Regions from separate parts of the Homo sapiens genome. Here region 2 is linked to region 1. The links come from fine-mapping of genetic effects on gene expression. Tissue or cell type: testis. Region 1 holds a variant in brackets; the other region holds the start of a gene. All regions are shown on one strand. Distances are between the middles of the regions.

Region 1 (8,103 bases):
GCCAGGCATGGTTGTGTGCACCTGTAGTCCCAGCTACTCAGGAAGCTGAGGTGGGAGGATCACTTGAACCCAGGAGTTCAAGCTTCTAGTGAGCTATGGTCATGCTACTGCACTCCAGCCTGGGCAACAAAGTGAGATCCTGTCTCAAAAAATGTATATGTGGGCTGAGAATTTTCCTGAACTGACAAAAAACAGAAGTCAGTTTAAAGTACTGAGCAAGATAAATAAAAATAAACCTACATGGTAGATACATTGTAGAATCTGCATTAATGATAAAGAAAATTGTTTATATGAATTATAAGAATGATTAACTCCAAAGGAATGGCAGGAGTTTGACAGCAGTTTGCTTGATATCAGTGATAGGTGCGAGGTGACAACTGGGTGGTATCTTTAAAGTGCTGAGAGAAGATAAGTAACAACCAGAATTCTCCACTGAATTAAATTTCACTCCAGAAGGTAAAATAAAGATATTTTGAGGTAGATGAAAACTGAGAGCATTTACCACTCACAGGCTTTTGCTGAAAGAACTACAGGTTTATGTATATTAATAAATTTCACAATTCAAAAAAAGCTTTGAAAACCTGAAGTTGTCCTTTGGTAAGTTTTCAGCAACCTCATTTGTGGGGCAAACTTGACCTAAACTAGTTCATGGGCTAATTTTGGTCTTTGTTTATCCCACTTAGTGTGAATACTTATATGTTTCACTGTGGAGACTTTAATATGTTTGAATCCATGGGGTGCTATCCCAACCCTGCTGAAGGTGTTATATCACATCTGGTTTGTGCAACCTTTATAAAATCTCAAAATTTGTCACTTCCAAACCAGAAAGGTCCCAGGATTTCAGATAAGTGATTATGGATCTTATTAAAGGATTATGGATCTTATTTCTTTAGCAAGAAATAATTGAACCAAGAGTGAAGGAGCAGAATGTGGGAAACAGTAGTGAGCATGAAAATTGATTTGATAAATGTAGGTAAACTTAATTAATTATTGATTTTTTTAAAGTAGTCATTTTTTTCTTTTTTCTCTTTTTTTTCTTTTTGAGATGGAGTCTCACTCTGATGCCCAGGCTGGAGTGCAGTGGTGCCATCTAGGCTCACTGCAACCTCCGTCCCCCGGGTTTAAGCAATTCTCCTGCCTCAGCCTCCCGAGTAGCTGGGATTACAGGCACCTGCCACCACACCTGGGTAATTTTTGTATTTTTAGTAGAGACGGGGTTTCACCATGTTGGCCAGGCTGGTCTTGTACTCCTGACTTCATGATGCACCCGCCTCAGCCTCCCAAAGTGCTGGGATTACAGGCGTGAGCCACCACTCCCAGCCTAAAGTGGTAATTTTTACATTTAAAAAGGTATATTGTCCTGTAGGTATGGGGGTGAATTTTTTAAAAAAGGAAAAAAAAGGAAAAGGTAGATATCAAAAGAAATAAATGACATCCAAATTGGAAAGTAAAAGGTAAAACTATATTCACAGGTTACATGGTCCTATGCATAAAAAGCATCCTAAAGAATCCACCAAAAGAAAAAAAAAAAAAAAAAACTTCTAGAGCTTATAAATGAATTCAGCAAAGTTGCAGGGGACAAGAGCAACACATAAAAATCAGTTGTTTCTATATACCATCAATGAACAATCTAAAAAGGAAATTAAGAAAAGCAATTCTGTTTAAAAGAGCATCCAAAAGATTTAGTCTATTAGGAATAAGTCTAACTGAGGAGGTGAAAGACTTGCACACTGAAAACTATAAAACATTGCTGAATGAAATTAAAGAAGAGCTAAATAAATAGAAAGACACCCTGAGTACATGGATAGGATGATGTAACACTGTTAACATGTCAGTTCTACCCAAAGCAATCTACTGATTCAACACAATTTTCTTTTCTTTTCTTTTATCTTCTTTTCTTTTTTTTTTTTTTTTTTTTTTTTGAGACAGAGTCTCACTCTGCCACCCAGGCTGGAGTGCAGTGGCGTGATCTCGGCTCACTGCAACCTCCACCTCCCAGGTTCAAGTGATTCTCCTGCTCAGAATCCTGAGTAGCTGGGATTACAGGCATCCACCACCATGCCCGACTAATTTTTGTATTTTTAGTAGAGATGGGGTTTCACCATGTTGGTCAGGCTGGTTGATTGAACACAATTTCTTTTCTTTTTTTTTTTTTTGAGATGGAGTCTCACTCTGTCTCCCAGGCTGGAGTGCAGTGGCTCAATCTCAGCTCACTACAACCTCCACCTCCCGGGTTCAAGCGGTTCTTCTGCCTCAGCCTCCAGAAAAGCTGGGATTACAGGTGCCCGCCACCACACCTGGCTAATTTTTGTATTTTTAGTAGATACAGGGTTTCACCATGTTGGCCAGGCTGGTCTTGAACTCCTGACCTCAGGTGATCTGCCCGCGTCAACCTCCCAAAGTGCTAGGATTACAGACGTGAGCCACCGCACCTGGCGATTCAACAAAATTTCTATCAAAATAAATAGGCTTTTTCACTGAGAGAAGAAGCTAATCCTCAAAATCATATGGAATAGCCAGGACAATCTTGAAAAAAGAATATAAAATTGGAAAGTTCAAACTTCCCAACTATAAAACTAGCTATGAAGCCACAGTAATTCAAGTATTATGGTCCTGGCATAAGGACAAACATATAGACCACTGGAATAGATTAGGAAGCCCAGAAATAAATCTTTACATATATGGTCATTTGATTTCCTGCAAAGGTGCAATTCAATAGGGAAAGGACAGTCTTTTCAACCAATGGTGCTGGGAAAACTGGATATCCACGTGTGAAAGAATGAAATTGGACTACAACACTCTTAGAAGAAAACAGGGGACAGTTTTCATAACATTAAATTTAGCAATTATTTCATGGATATAACACCAAAAGCATAAGGAACAAAAAATATAGATAAATTGGACTTCATCAAAATTAAGAACTTTTGTGCATCAAAGGATACTATCATGAAAGTGAAAGGACAACCTACACAATAGAAGAAAATATTTGCAAATCATATATCCAATAAGGAATTAATATCCAGAATATGTAAAGAACTCCTGCAACTCAACAACAACAAAACAACCCAATTTAAAAATGGGCAAAGGACTTGAAGAGACATTTCTCCAAAGAAGATATCCAAATGGCCAACACATGAAAAGATGCTCAACATCATTAGTCATTGGTAAAATGCAAATCAAAACAACAATAAGATGCCACTTCACATCTTCTAGGTTGGCTGTTTTTTAAAAAGGAAAATAGCATGTGTTGCTGAGGAGGTGGACAAATTGGAGCCCTTGTGCATTGCTAGTGAGAATGTAAAATAGTACAGCTGCTCTGGAAAACAGTTCGGTTGTTTCTCAAAAGGTTAAACCTATAACTACCATATGACCCAGCAATTGCACTTGTAGGTATACATCTAAAAGAATTAAAGAAGGAACTGAAACAGATACTTGTATACAAATCATAGCAGCATTATTCACAATAGCCAAAAGGTGGAAGTAACCCAAGGGTCCATCAACAGATCAATGGATAAACAATAGATGGTACATACATACAAAGGAATATTATTCTGCTTTAAAAAGAAAATAAATTTATGGCCCTGCAGTGGCTTACACCTGTAATCCCAACACTTTGGGAAGGTACGGTTGAAGGATCATTTAAGGCCAGGAGTTCAAGGCTTGAGACCAGCCTGGGCAACATAGGGAGACCCTGTCTCTATTATTTAAAAATTATGAAGGAAGGAAAGAAGGAAGGAGGGAAAGAAAGAAAGAAATTTTGATACATGCTACATGTACGGCCCTTGAAGACATTATTCTTAGTGAAATAGGCCAGAACGACAGATATTACATGATTCCACTTATATGAGGTACTTAGAATAGGCAAATATATAGAGATAGAAAGTAGAATAGAGGTTATGAGGGTCTGGGGGGTGGGCAGAAGGGGGTGTTGTTGTTTAATTGATGTAGAGTTTTTGTTGGGGATGATGAAAAAGTTTTGGGTATTGATAGTGTTCATGGTTGCACAGCATTGTGAATATATTTAATGACACTGAATTGTACAGTTGCAAATGGTTAAATGATAAATATTATGTATAGTTTACCACATTAAAAAAGTTTTCCAATTTAAAAA[G/C]AGATAGATTCTAGTCACATTCTAAAAAATAATATCAGAAGATGAGAAGACTGCACATAAGTTATAGAAAGTGTGCTTTGGGCTTTGTCTTGTTTTATTTTTATTTTTGTTTTGTTTGTTTATTTATTTTGAGACAGGGTCTTGCTCTGTCACCCAGGCTGGAGTGCAGTGGTGCGATCACAGCTCACTGCAGCCTTGACCTCCTAGGCTCCAGCAGTCCTCCCACCTCAGCCTCTCAAGTAGCTGGGACCAAAGGCATGCACCACCATGCCCAGCTAATTTTTGTAATGTTTCATAAAATCAAGGTTTCACTATGTTGCCCAGGCTGGTCTCAAACTGCTGAGCTCAAGCAGCCCACCCACCTCAGCCTTCCAAAGTGCTGGGATTATAGGCATAAGCCACCATGCCTGGCCCATTGTCTTGTTTTGGAGAGTTATAAAGATAATGAGTATTTTCAGACATTTTCAAAAATATGTAGATAGGCCAGGCGCGGTGGCTCATGCCAGTAATCCCAACACTTTGGGAGGCTGAGATGGGTGGATCACTTGAACTCAGGAGTTTGAGACCAGTCAGGGCAACATGGTAAGACCCCATCTCTACTAAAAATCCAAAAAAATAGCTGAGTGTGATGATGCCTGCCTTTGGTCCCAGCTAATTGGGAGGCTGAGGTGGGAGGATCAGTGCTTGAGCCTGGAGGGCAGAGGTTGCAGTGAGCCAAGATGGGGCCACTGCACTCCAGACTGGGTGACAGTGGGAGACAATGTCTGGGGAAAAACAATGTAGATAAATATTATGTTAATGTTTTAAGATGGGGTCTCACCATATTGCCCAGGCTGGACTCAAACTGCTGGGCTCAAGCGATCCTCCATCCTCAGCCTCTGAGTAGAACTACAGGCATGCACCACCATGCCTGGCTGATTATGTTAAATTTTAATACTGAAAGATTATAGATTTTGTCTATAGCTTCCAAACTAACAGGGAGGGTAGAAAAGAATTAAAACAAAACTTTACTAACACAATAGAAGGTGGGAAAAGAAGGTGGGGAAAGGGAAAGAAGAATGGATAATGGGAAAGACAAAATAAGATATCAGGTCAGAAATTAATCAGATACACTGAAAAGCTACTCGTTAACATATAGTGACTGTAAGGTTGGGTAGAGAAGCAGAATCTAGCCATATGCTATTTACAAGAGATATACATAAACAAAATGACCTAGAAGGGTTATTAAAGGCACAGAAACAGATACACCAGGAAAATACCAATCAAAATAAAGCTGGTATTGCAATATTATAATAAAAATATCAGACTCAAAGCCTGGAATTTAGAAAAATTAGTAAGATATAGACTTTCAATATTTCCTGTGTGGCTAGCTTCAAAGATACATTCTACCTGGCATCACTTACCTGTCTTTCTTATCTTTCTAAATCAATTTCCACAAATATTTATGAGTAACTATCAGTTAGGTAATGAGTCAGGTAATATAGTAGAGGCAAAGATGAGTACAGCCTAAGTGCTTACTCCATAGAACTGACAGTCTAATAGGAGAAAGTCCAGTAACTTTAAAACAAAGTAGCAAATTGTGAGCACTGTTAGAGAGTTTTAAGTGAGATACGATGGAAATTGGGCATGGGAGATAAAATCAGGAAAAGACTTTACACAAAATTGGCATTTGAGATGGTCTTTAAAAGCTATACCAAAGCTATAATTTCACTAGACCATGACCTAGACATCAGCTTTTTCCCCCTTAGAATATGAAGCACAATTTGGGACTACTTCTTTGCTGGACAGTTTCATAAATTTAGGCTACAGTATTATCATTTCAGACTTCATTTGCTGGAAATGTAGCCTACTGCATTTACCTATAACAGCTCATTTGCTGTATTTTTTATTTTCCTTTCCTTAAGACAATAGCACTGCGTGGTTAGGTTAACACTTTCATTGCTTTTGAAAGCCCCTCTTCTAACCTAATCTTTTGCCAGGTGATGTCCGCATACTTCCTCAGGGTGTCTTAGAAGTAGATTTCTATGCTAGCTCTCCATGAAAGGAGAAGAGTATATAATTTGCTTTTTCATACAGTGCTGTTACTATTAGGAAGGAACTAACTTTATTCTAAATGAAAACACACTCTATATTAAAGACAAGTTAGATACTTTCCCATGAAGTTGGTCTAGGAGAAGGGAAACGGAATAGATGCCTCCTGAAATTTTTTCCTGTTCCATTCAGAGTCAGATTTTTCCCCCCCTTTATATGGTCAACAAATGAAAACTGGCATTTGGAATTACCATCGTTCCCCCCATTGCTTGCCATCTTCAAATTTAATGTCTGCCTCTCCACAAAGATTAACATGTTTCCACTCCTGATTTACTTGTCAGGGAATTTAGAAGTTTTCTGGAACCTAAAGTTCACTCTGGTAGGGATGATTACTGGATAATTGCCTATTCTTCGGTGGAATTTCCACTTTTAGATTACACCAGGCTCTACAGCCTTTATTTCTTTGGCAGGAAAACCCAAAGGCAATGGAGTATATTTTTTTCCCTTCCCTGGCCCAGCTTAAACAATGACTCACTTGGGCCCTGGGGCTTTGCTTCATACTCTCATTTAGGGGCCACTTTATACCCTTGTTTCTATTTTCCTTTCTTGTTCTGTTTGGACCCTTTATATCCTTTGGCACATGGGATTTGTCTCTGGGGTTATTGTCAGAGAGATATATAAAACCACCCCAAACTGGAACAGCCACTCCAGTTATGTCCCCATAGCCATGTCATCCTTATGGCAGCTGGTATAGGCCAGGGAGAGTACAGAAATAATATCTTTTTTCTTTTTTTTTTTTTTTTTTGAGACTGAGTCTCACTCTGTTGATCAGGCTGGAGTGCAGTGGCATGATCTCGGCTCACTGCAACCTCCACCTCCCAGGTTCAAGTGATTCTCCTGCCTCAGCCTCCCGAGTAGCTGGAATGACTGGTGCACGCCACCATGCCCAGCTAATTTTTGTATTTTTAGTAGAGACAGGGTTTCACCATGTTGGCCAGGCTGGTCTCCAACTCCTGACCTCAAGTGATCCACCCGCCTTGGCCTCCCAAAGTGCTGGGATTACAGGCGTGACCCACTGCGCCCAGCCCAGAAATAATATCTTTAAGGAAACCTAATTCCAAATGCAGTAGAGGGAAAAGTATTCTCCAAAAAGAAAGATATGAGTGCCAGTGTCATCCAGTTAGAGGCTAAAAGGCTTTCCTCCATATGCGTTGCTCGAATGACTGATTCAGATGTCCTCTGTGTGTACCTGTGGAAGGTGGGAAGCACTCAGAGGAACTGGCCTCCAAGAGTTTTCGGAAAGGTATGGTTATATGAAGAGACTTCCCCATAGAAGGACTAGGTCTAATCTAGAGTTCAGAGTTTTGTTGGGGAGAAAAATTCCCCGTTTTTGGCAGTGGTTCTCTCTGGTCTCAATTTTTCATTCTGATTCCAGCCTTCTGGATTCCATCTAACAATGACTTCTTGACTTTTCTCTTTGCAGTTTTAACAGTGTATGCCAGGGAACACACATTCTCTTTCGAGAATTCAGCTTCGTCCAAGCCACCCCCCACAATAGGGTATCATTTTTACGGGCCTTCTGGAGATGCTTCCGAACTGTGGGCAAAAATGGCGGTAAGTCTTCCCAAATTCTTTTTCCTTCCTTCCTTCCTTCCTTCCTTTCTTCCTTCCTTCCTTCCTCTCTCTCTCTTTCTTTCTCTCTCTCTTTTCCTCTCTTTCTCTTTCAAACTTTTTCTTTTGTTCCTATAAATATTGTTTGAATGCATGCTATTCAAGGCATTTAGAATACCTCACTTTTGAGGAGTTGTCTGGTTTATGTCAAAGATATTACTATTACCACTACCATCACTAATGGTACCTATTAAGAGCCAAGTGTAGCTCTTTACATGTAGTAACTCATTTATCTTTACAAGGGCTCTCTGTGGTAGATACCATAATCCCCATTTTGTAACTAATGAAAC
Region 2 (8,103 bases), 110 kb before region 1:
GTTGATAAAAGCTTGTCCTAGTTTCTTGAACCTGTTTTATAGCAATAATTCAGCCTGCATTTATTCTTTCCTTATTGCTTCCTTGAAGTTTAAAACTGTTTAGTGTATTCACCGTTTGCTTTTCTATAGTCTTCAATTATAGGGAGGATTTTCTTCCCTATCAATCTCTTAATAGGTCTTCTGCAGAGCCAGAGATGTCTATTAATTTTCTCATTATAAAATCAGAAATTATAATCTGATAAATTGATGTCTCAGCTGGGTGCAGTGGCTCATGCACTTTGGGAGACTGAGGCAGGAGGATTGCTTGAGCTCAGGAATTCGAAACCAGCCTGGGCTACCTAGCAAGACCTTGTCTCTACAAAATTAAAAATATTATCTGGATGTGGTGGCATGCACCAGTGATCCCAGCTACTCAGGAGGCTGAGGTGGGAGGATTACTTGAGCCCAAGAATTCCAGGCTACAGTGAGTTGTGATTGTGCCATTGCACTCCAGCCTGGGTGACAAAGGGAGACCTTATATATACTAAAAAACAAAACAAACAAACAAACAAAAAACAAAAGGTGCAGTGGCTCACACCTGTAATCCCAGCACTTTGGGAGACTGAGGCGGGTGGATCACTTGAAGTCAGGGGTTCGAGACCAGCCTGGTCAACATGGCGAAACCCTGTCTCTACTGAAAATACAAAAATTAGCCGGGTGTGGTGGCACACACCTGTAGTCCCAACTACTCGGGAGGCTGAGGCAGGAGAATGGCTTGAACCTGGGACACAGAGGTTGCAGTAAGCAGAGATTGCACCATTCCACTCCTTTCTGGATGATGGAGTGAGCCTCTGTCTCAAAAAACAAACAAACAAAAACAAAAACCATCTCAATATATTCTCTCTCTTGTTTTTTTCTTATTGTTCTGAATTTGATGTTTACAGTCGTCATGCTGTAGTACTGCCTTTAACATCCGATGCTCTATTTATCATCAATATCTTATCACTTGCCTCTTTTCAGGATTATGGAGTTGTCTTCTGACTTACCGATTTACCTCGGTGATTTTTTTTTTTGGTAAATTTTTAAGAAATATATTATGATAAGTTAAGAACCTGAAAAGTCAATTTAAATCAAAGGCTGACATTTTTTTTCTTTCTTTCACATTCAAGTCACAAAAAATACACTTAATTTTAACAACTCTTATATATTTCTACTCTTCTTAAGACTGATGTAGTGTATGTTTCATTGAAAAATTTCACCAATAACCAATGTGTTTCAAAAATCTATTATCATGTAATCTGTGACAGAAGAGAAATCTAGCAGTGGCTTCTTTTTGGGAAAAACAAACACTGTCTGGAAGGTCATCACATCTGCTTAAAAAATTTTAAAGATTTTCAGGCCACTCATTTATTATTTGTTTTCAGGTTATAATACATGCCTATTATAGAAAGTTTAAGACTATAGAAAAATATAAAGAAGAAAAATGTAAACAGTCAGTAATTCCACTACCAGTAAGGCCACCTGTTATTTCGGTGAAACTTCAAATTTTTGTGAAGCCTTACTCTAGCAACCTCCTACTTTTCTAAGTCCTCCTCCTCAATAGACTGTTCAGGACATTCAGAGTGGAAGACTGACTTTGAATACAGGGGTCCTTCGGATTTTTATGGAAGGGATGGAACTGTAGGAAAAACCTACAAATTGCTCCAGAGATGACATCTTGTTCTTATTTAGCCTTCTTTGAGTCATTAACAGTCGGGCGCCACTGGTGCTGAAACTTATCATTATTATAACCACAAATGGGTTAATGCCCAAACAAAGCTATATTCTTGGGGCTGGTTCCCAGCTCCACCACACAGACCCCAGCAGCCAGCACCCGCCAAGTCCCAGGATAATGCTCCACAAATAAGACGATGTCAAATGTTCAGCCTGGACTCAACATTATCTTCTTCTATCTGGGAGCTTCCAGTTGCTAGCAGGGCAGAGCAAAAGGAAAAATAAATAAATAAAAGCCAGGTCAACAAACCCTAAAAAAAGAGACTGTGTGGTTTAGTGGTCAGACCACTGGCCTGGATGTTGGGATAGCTGAGATCCAGTTGTAGCTCTACCACTATGTGGCTGCATGATGCTAGACAAGTCACTAGACAAGTCACTGTTGTGACTTGTGCCTCAGTTTCCCTAGTTAGAAAATGGAAAAGTGCCTTAGAAAGGTTTTTTTTTTTTTTTTTTTTTTTTTTTTGAGACGGAGTCTCGCTGTGTCGCCCAGGCTGGAGTGCAGTGGTGCGATCTTGGCTCACTGCAACTTCTGCCTCCCCGGTTCAAGTGATTCTTCTGCCTCAGCCTCCTGAGTAGCTGGGATTACAGGCGTGCGCCACCACGCCTGGCTAATTTTTGTATTTTTAGTAGAGATGGGGTTTCTCCATATTGGCCAGGCTGGTCTCGAACTCCTGAACTCGTGATCCGCCCACCTCAGCAGAAAGTTTTTATGAGGACAAATAAGATTATTTGCAAATAGCTACAAGTTGCTTGGGAATAAAGTAAAATTATCACTTAATAATTACTATGGTATTACCTTATTAATAAAATAGTAAAAAGCCACAGTTATGGAACATATGAACCTCCCATAACCTCAAGCTAGATGGGGGAAGCAGATAAGAAGGCAATTAAAAAAAAATCAGATTTGCTGGACTTCACACCAAATACCAAATTAGTAAATTTGCCTCAAGACACTAAGCCCTGCTCCTACTTTGGCTCTGTCCTTTTAACCTCACCACATCCAAACTTAGAGTGACTCACAGGAGCCTAGAATTGAGACACATATACAATTTTAAGGGAAAGCAAGAATTAGGAGGTTTGAGGCTCCTTACTGGAGGACGCTAAGAATAGGCCACTCGGAACACAAAGAGAAGAACCTCCTCTTTCCTTTTCCTCCCAGTGTAGGTGGTCTACTGGTTTCCCAGTCATTCCTTTGATAGCTTGATTTTGTTTTCTTTGTCTCTTTTTCACAAACCTCACCTTGTTGGAGGGGGAGGGCACTAAAAAAGTGAGGACAGAGTGGCTTTTTCTGCTATGTCTGAACTGTGTCTAGTGCTACAGATCTCTGACCTGTTGTCAGGAGTGGAGAGGGGCGAAAAGAAATATTTAGGAACTTGAAAACCAGTGAATATTCTCTTAAAGAAGAAGTGAGCAATTGGGCATATAGGGAAAAAAATCTAACTGGTGTCCTCGTTTCTGCAGCCCCTCTCCCTCAAGAAGAGCAATGTCTTGGTAGGAAAAAGGAAAGACACCTGGGAAAGGTACCAAATAGTAAGGGCTAGGAATAGAAAGAAGAACCAAAGATAAAAAGGAATTGAGCCTGGGCGCGGTGGCTCACGCCTGTAATCCCAGCACTTTGGGAGGCCTGAGGCAGGCGGATCACCTGAGGTCGGCGGATCACCTGAGGTCAAGAGTTTGCAGACCAGCCTCGCCAACATGGTGAAACCCCATCTCTACTAAAAACACAAAAAATTAGCCAGGCGGAGTGGCGGGCGCCTGTAATCCCAGCTACTTGGGAGGCTGAGGCAGGAGAATCGCTTGAACCCGGGAGGCGCTGGTTGCAATGAACCGAGATCACGCTACTGCACTCCAGCCTGGGCGACTGAGTGAGAATTGAGAAGAAATGGCAATTAGTTCAGAGGACTTAATGAGTACCTTTTGTGTGTCCAGCCGTCATAGGCAGAAAAGACACATCTCTGACCTCTAGAAGCATCCAGGGTATATGCATACGTAAGCACTTTGTAGCAATTTAAGATAGTAAATACCAAAGAGATAAAAATAGCTAATGGGATACTAAGTGTTTATGGGGGCCAAAGGGCGGGGGCTATTACTGAGTTAGGATAAACAGTGTATAAAAGCAGGGATAGTTATGAAATTCAGAAACTGCGTATATGGGCGGCTGACAGTAATTCTTCGACACTGGGAAACATAACGGATTCAAAAGAATTCTTCATCTCAGATTCCTCTAAAACCAAGTCTTCAAGAATGGGAGTCCAAAGAAACCTGGACCATCGTGAAGCGACTGCCCCCGGAACTTGAGTGGCCAGCTCCACTTTGCGACACGGAGACTGTTTGTGTGACACCTCCTCCAGCTCCCGTCCCCCTTCCGCCGCGTGGGTGCCATGGCAACGGAGAGAGACGGCAACCTGGGTTCCGGAAGCCGGAGAGCTGGAGCTTTGAAGCCACCCCGGTCAAAGGATGCTGAGTCCGGAGCGCCTAGCCCTACCGGACTACGAGTATCTGGGTAGGAACCCCCTTTAACTTTGGGGAGGGAAAGACGTGCAGACGAATTAGGCCAGGGTCTGGGAGGAGGCGGGGGCGGGGTCTGAGTGGGATCGGGTCCGGGTGGTATGGGGAGGGGCGGAGAGGCGGGGGTTCCAGGGCCTGAGCCTGTAAGGCCGAGCAGGAAGGAAAAAAGCACCTGGGAAGTAAAGAATGTTTGAAGTGTAGGGGCTGGAACTCAGGCAATGTGGATTGTGTTCAAATGGGTCAGGTTGGCGTTGAGGATTTGGGGCCCTGTTGGGGTATTATTGATATGCTGGTAGTGGAGTAAGAATAACCTTGGAACCTCAAGTGCCAAATCAGTCAGCGAACATTTCGAGCTTTTCTTTTTCATTAGGCACTGTGCTAAGCATTTTTCATGCATCATTCTTCATTTGAATTTCTCAACAGCCCTAGGAGGAATTACCGTGTTTTCTTCCAGTTTTGCAGGTGGAGAAACTGGGGCTGAAGAGGTAACTTGCGTTAAGTTAGGCCACACAGCTAGAAAATGGTAGCGCTAGGATCAGAACCGGATTTGCCCACTCCAACAGAACTTGAGATATTGACTTGGCTCTTGAGCTAAGACTGTATATGTAGTACTTTGTTGAGCATCTTTAGTGTATAAGGCATTTAATGAATGAAAAAAGGCACACACACGCATAGATATGTACACACACACACATATGCACACAATACACATTTTATTTTATTTTATTTTTGAGACGGAGTCTAGCTCTGTCGCCCGGGCTGGAGTGCAGTGGCGCGATCTTGGCTCACTGCAAGCTCCGCCTCCCGGGTAGCTGGGACTACAGGCGCCCGCCACCTCGCCCGGCTACTTTTTTGTATACTTAATAGAGACGGGGTTTCACCGTGTTAACCAGGATGGTCTCGATCTCCTGACCTCGTGATCTGCCCGCCTCAGCCTCCAAAAGTGCTTGGATTACAGGCGTGAGCCACCGCGCCCGGCCACAATACACATTTTAAATAATTCATAGACTTTTATTTTTTTAAAGACGTTTTGTTTTGTTTTGTTTTGTTTTTTGAGACAGAGTTTCTCTCCTGTTGCCCAGGCTGGAGTACACTGCAACCTCTGCCTCCCGGATTCAAGCGATTCTCCTGCCTCAGCCTCCCGAGTAGTTGAGATTACAGGCATGCGCCACCACGCCAGGTTAATTTTATATTTTTAGTAGAGACGGGGTTTCACCATGTTGGTCAGGCTGGTCTCAAACTCCTGACCTCAGGTGATCCGCCCACCTCGGCCTCCCAAAGTGTTGGGATTACAGGCGTGAGCCACTGCACATGGCGAGAAGTTTTAAGTTTACAGAAAATTGAGCAGATAGTACGGCGAGTTCCCATATACCTTGGGTCTCCCTCACTCACAGTTTCCGCTATTATTTACATCTTGCATTAGTGTGGTACATTTGTTACAATGGATAAACATATATATTTATAATATATAATAATATATTATATATTATTATTATTATATAGATATATTATTATAGATACATATTATTAACTAAAGTCCATAGTTTACATTAGGGTTCTTTGTGTTGTTCAGTTCTGTGGGTTTTGATAAATGCATGTCATGTATTCACCATTCCATTATCATACAGAATAGTTTCACTGTCCTGAAAAATCCCCTGTGCTCCACCTATTGATCCTTCTCCCTCCCCCTGCAGCCCTTGCCAACCACTGATCTTATGGTCTCTAAAGTTTTGCCTTTTCCAGAATATCATGTAGTTGGAGTCATACAGTGTGTAAATTTTTCAGATGGGCTTCTTTAACTTAGCAGTAAGCATTTAAGTTTCCTCCATGTCTTTCTGTGGCATGATAACTCATTTCTTTTTATTTCTGAATAATATTCCATTGTATGGATGTACCATGCACATCTTTTTTTTTTTTCTTCTTCTTTTTTTTTTTTTTTGAGACAATGTCTGGCACTGTCACTCAGGCTGGAGTGCAGTGGCACTATCACGGCTCACTGCAGCCTCAACCTCCGGGCTCAAGTGATCCTGCTACCTCAGCCTTCCAAGTAGCTGGGACTACAGGCACATGCCACCATCCCTGGTTAATTTTTTAATTTTTTGTAGAGAAAGAGTCTCACTATGTTGTCCAGGTTGGTCTTGAACTCCAGGGCTCAAGCAAGCCTCTTACTGTGGCCTTCCAAAGTACTGAGATTACAGGTGTGAGTCACTGCACCTGGCTTACATCTTTTTTTTTTTTTTTTTTTTTTTTTGAGATGGAGTTTCACTCTTGTTGCCTAGGCTGGAGTGCAATGATGCGATCTGGGCTCACCCCAACCTCCGCCTCCTGGGTTCAAGTGATTCTCCTGCCTCAGCCTCCCTAGTACCTGGGATTACAGGCATGCGCCACCACGCCTGGCTAATTTTGTATTTTTAGTAGAGATGGGTTTCTCCATGTTGGTCAGGCTGGTCTCAAACTCCTGACCTCAGGTGATCCACCCACCTCGGCCTCCCAAACTGCTTGGATTACAGGCGTGAGCCACCGCGCCCAGCCAACATCTTTTTAAATGAAAAACAATTCTGGTTTACATTTTGTTTAACTTATTTTAAAAATTAATTTTAAAATATTTTTTAAGGTTGGTAATATGGAAACTTGATTCAAAGTATTTTTTAGGCCTGGCATGGTGGCTCATGCCTGTAATCCCAATACTTTGGGAGGCTGACGTAGGAGGATTGCTTGAGGTCAGGAGTTCAAGACCAGACTGGATGATAGAGTGAGACCCTGCCTCTAAAATGCATAGATAGATAGATAGATAGATAGATAGATAGATAGATAGATAGGTAGATGTTTTTAGTGAAAAGCCTACCCCTTTGCCTCCATCTGCCCAGTTTCCATCCATCCTCAGCCTCCCAAAAGTAACCACTATTATTGTTTTCCTGTGTATCTTTCCAGAGTTTATTATATACATAAAGGAGTATACAGTGCATACTTTTTCATTTAATACATCTTGAAGTAATTTCCGTTTCTTTTGTTTTTTCTTTTCTTTCTTTCTTGAGACAGAGTCTCACTCTGTCACCCAGGCTGGAGTGCAGTGGCACCATCTCGGCTCACTGCAACCTCCACTTCCTGGGTTCAAGCCATTCTCCTGCCCCAGCCTCTCAAGTAGCTGGAACTGCAGGCACGAGCCACCACACCTGGCTAAGTTTTTGTATTTTGGGTAGAGATAGGGTTTCTCCATGTTGCCCAGGCTGCTTTTGAACTTCCTGAGCTCAAGCGATCTGCCCACCTTGGCTTCCCAAAGTCCTGGGATTATAGGCGTGAGCCACTGCGCCTGGCCTCGAAGTAATTTCTCAGTCAGTAGGGAGCTTCTTCGTTCTTCATGAAATTCATTTTTAGCTATATAGTATTTAAATAATTTATTTAACCAGTCCCGCACTGGTAAACAAGTTGTTTTTAGCCTTTTGCTGTTACTAAGAATGCTGCAATGAATAACCTGCAGTTTTGTTCCTTTGCAAGTGTATCTGCAAGAATAAGTTCCACAAAGTGGAATTGGTGGATTAAGGGCATATGCATTGAAGTACTTATAGATATTGTCAGATTGCCCTTAATAGGTGTTGTACCATTTTGCCACCAGCAATGAAAGAGAATGCCTGTTTCCCCATTGTGCTGACAACAAAATACATCAAACTTGGATTTTTTTCAATCTAAGTGACAGATAGTCTGAGTAGATTTAATATGCATTTTTAAATGAAGTTGAGTGCCTTTTTACCAAGTTTAAGGGCTGATTGGTCTTTGAAAGCTATATATATACACATATATACATGAACATATATATAGACATATATATAGAGAGAGAGCTTAAGA

Which allele goes with the higher level. Positions count from the first base shown, and alleles are read on the strand shown. Sizes are in standard deviations (SD) of each study's normalised expression.
With allele C in place of G in region 1, the expression in testis of the gene that starts at base 4,165 in region 2 is higher (moderate effect, 0.50 SD a copy in GTEx).

The links. PIP is the estimated chance that this variant, and not a neighbour inherited with it, causes the effect.
Region 2: CSTPP1 starts here. The variant in region 1 is fine-mapped to the expression of CSTPP1 in testis (GTEx, PIP 0.96).

What each region holds. Positions count from the first base shown.
Region 1 is chr11:47,044,763-47,052,865 of GRCh38, forward strand. It overlaps CSTPP1 (centriolar satellite-associated tubulin polyglutamylase complex regulator 1), which reads left to right. Exons shown (of 9, transcript NM_024113.5): 3 at 7,626-7,756. Among named protein-coding and RNA genes, the nearest start is that of CSTPP1, 110 kb to the left of the region's middle. The variant G/C (reference allele first, on the strand shown) is at 4,112.
Region 2 is chr11:46,932,597-46,940,699 of GRCh38, forward strand. CSTPP1 (centriolar satellite-associated tubulin polyglutamylase complex regulator 1) reads left to right here and starts at 4,165. Exons shown (of 9, transcript NM_024113.5): 1 at 4,165-4,255. The coding sequence starts at 4,210. RefSeq lists an enhancer at 4,023-4,232.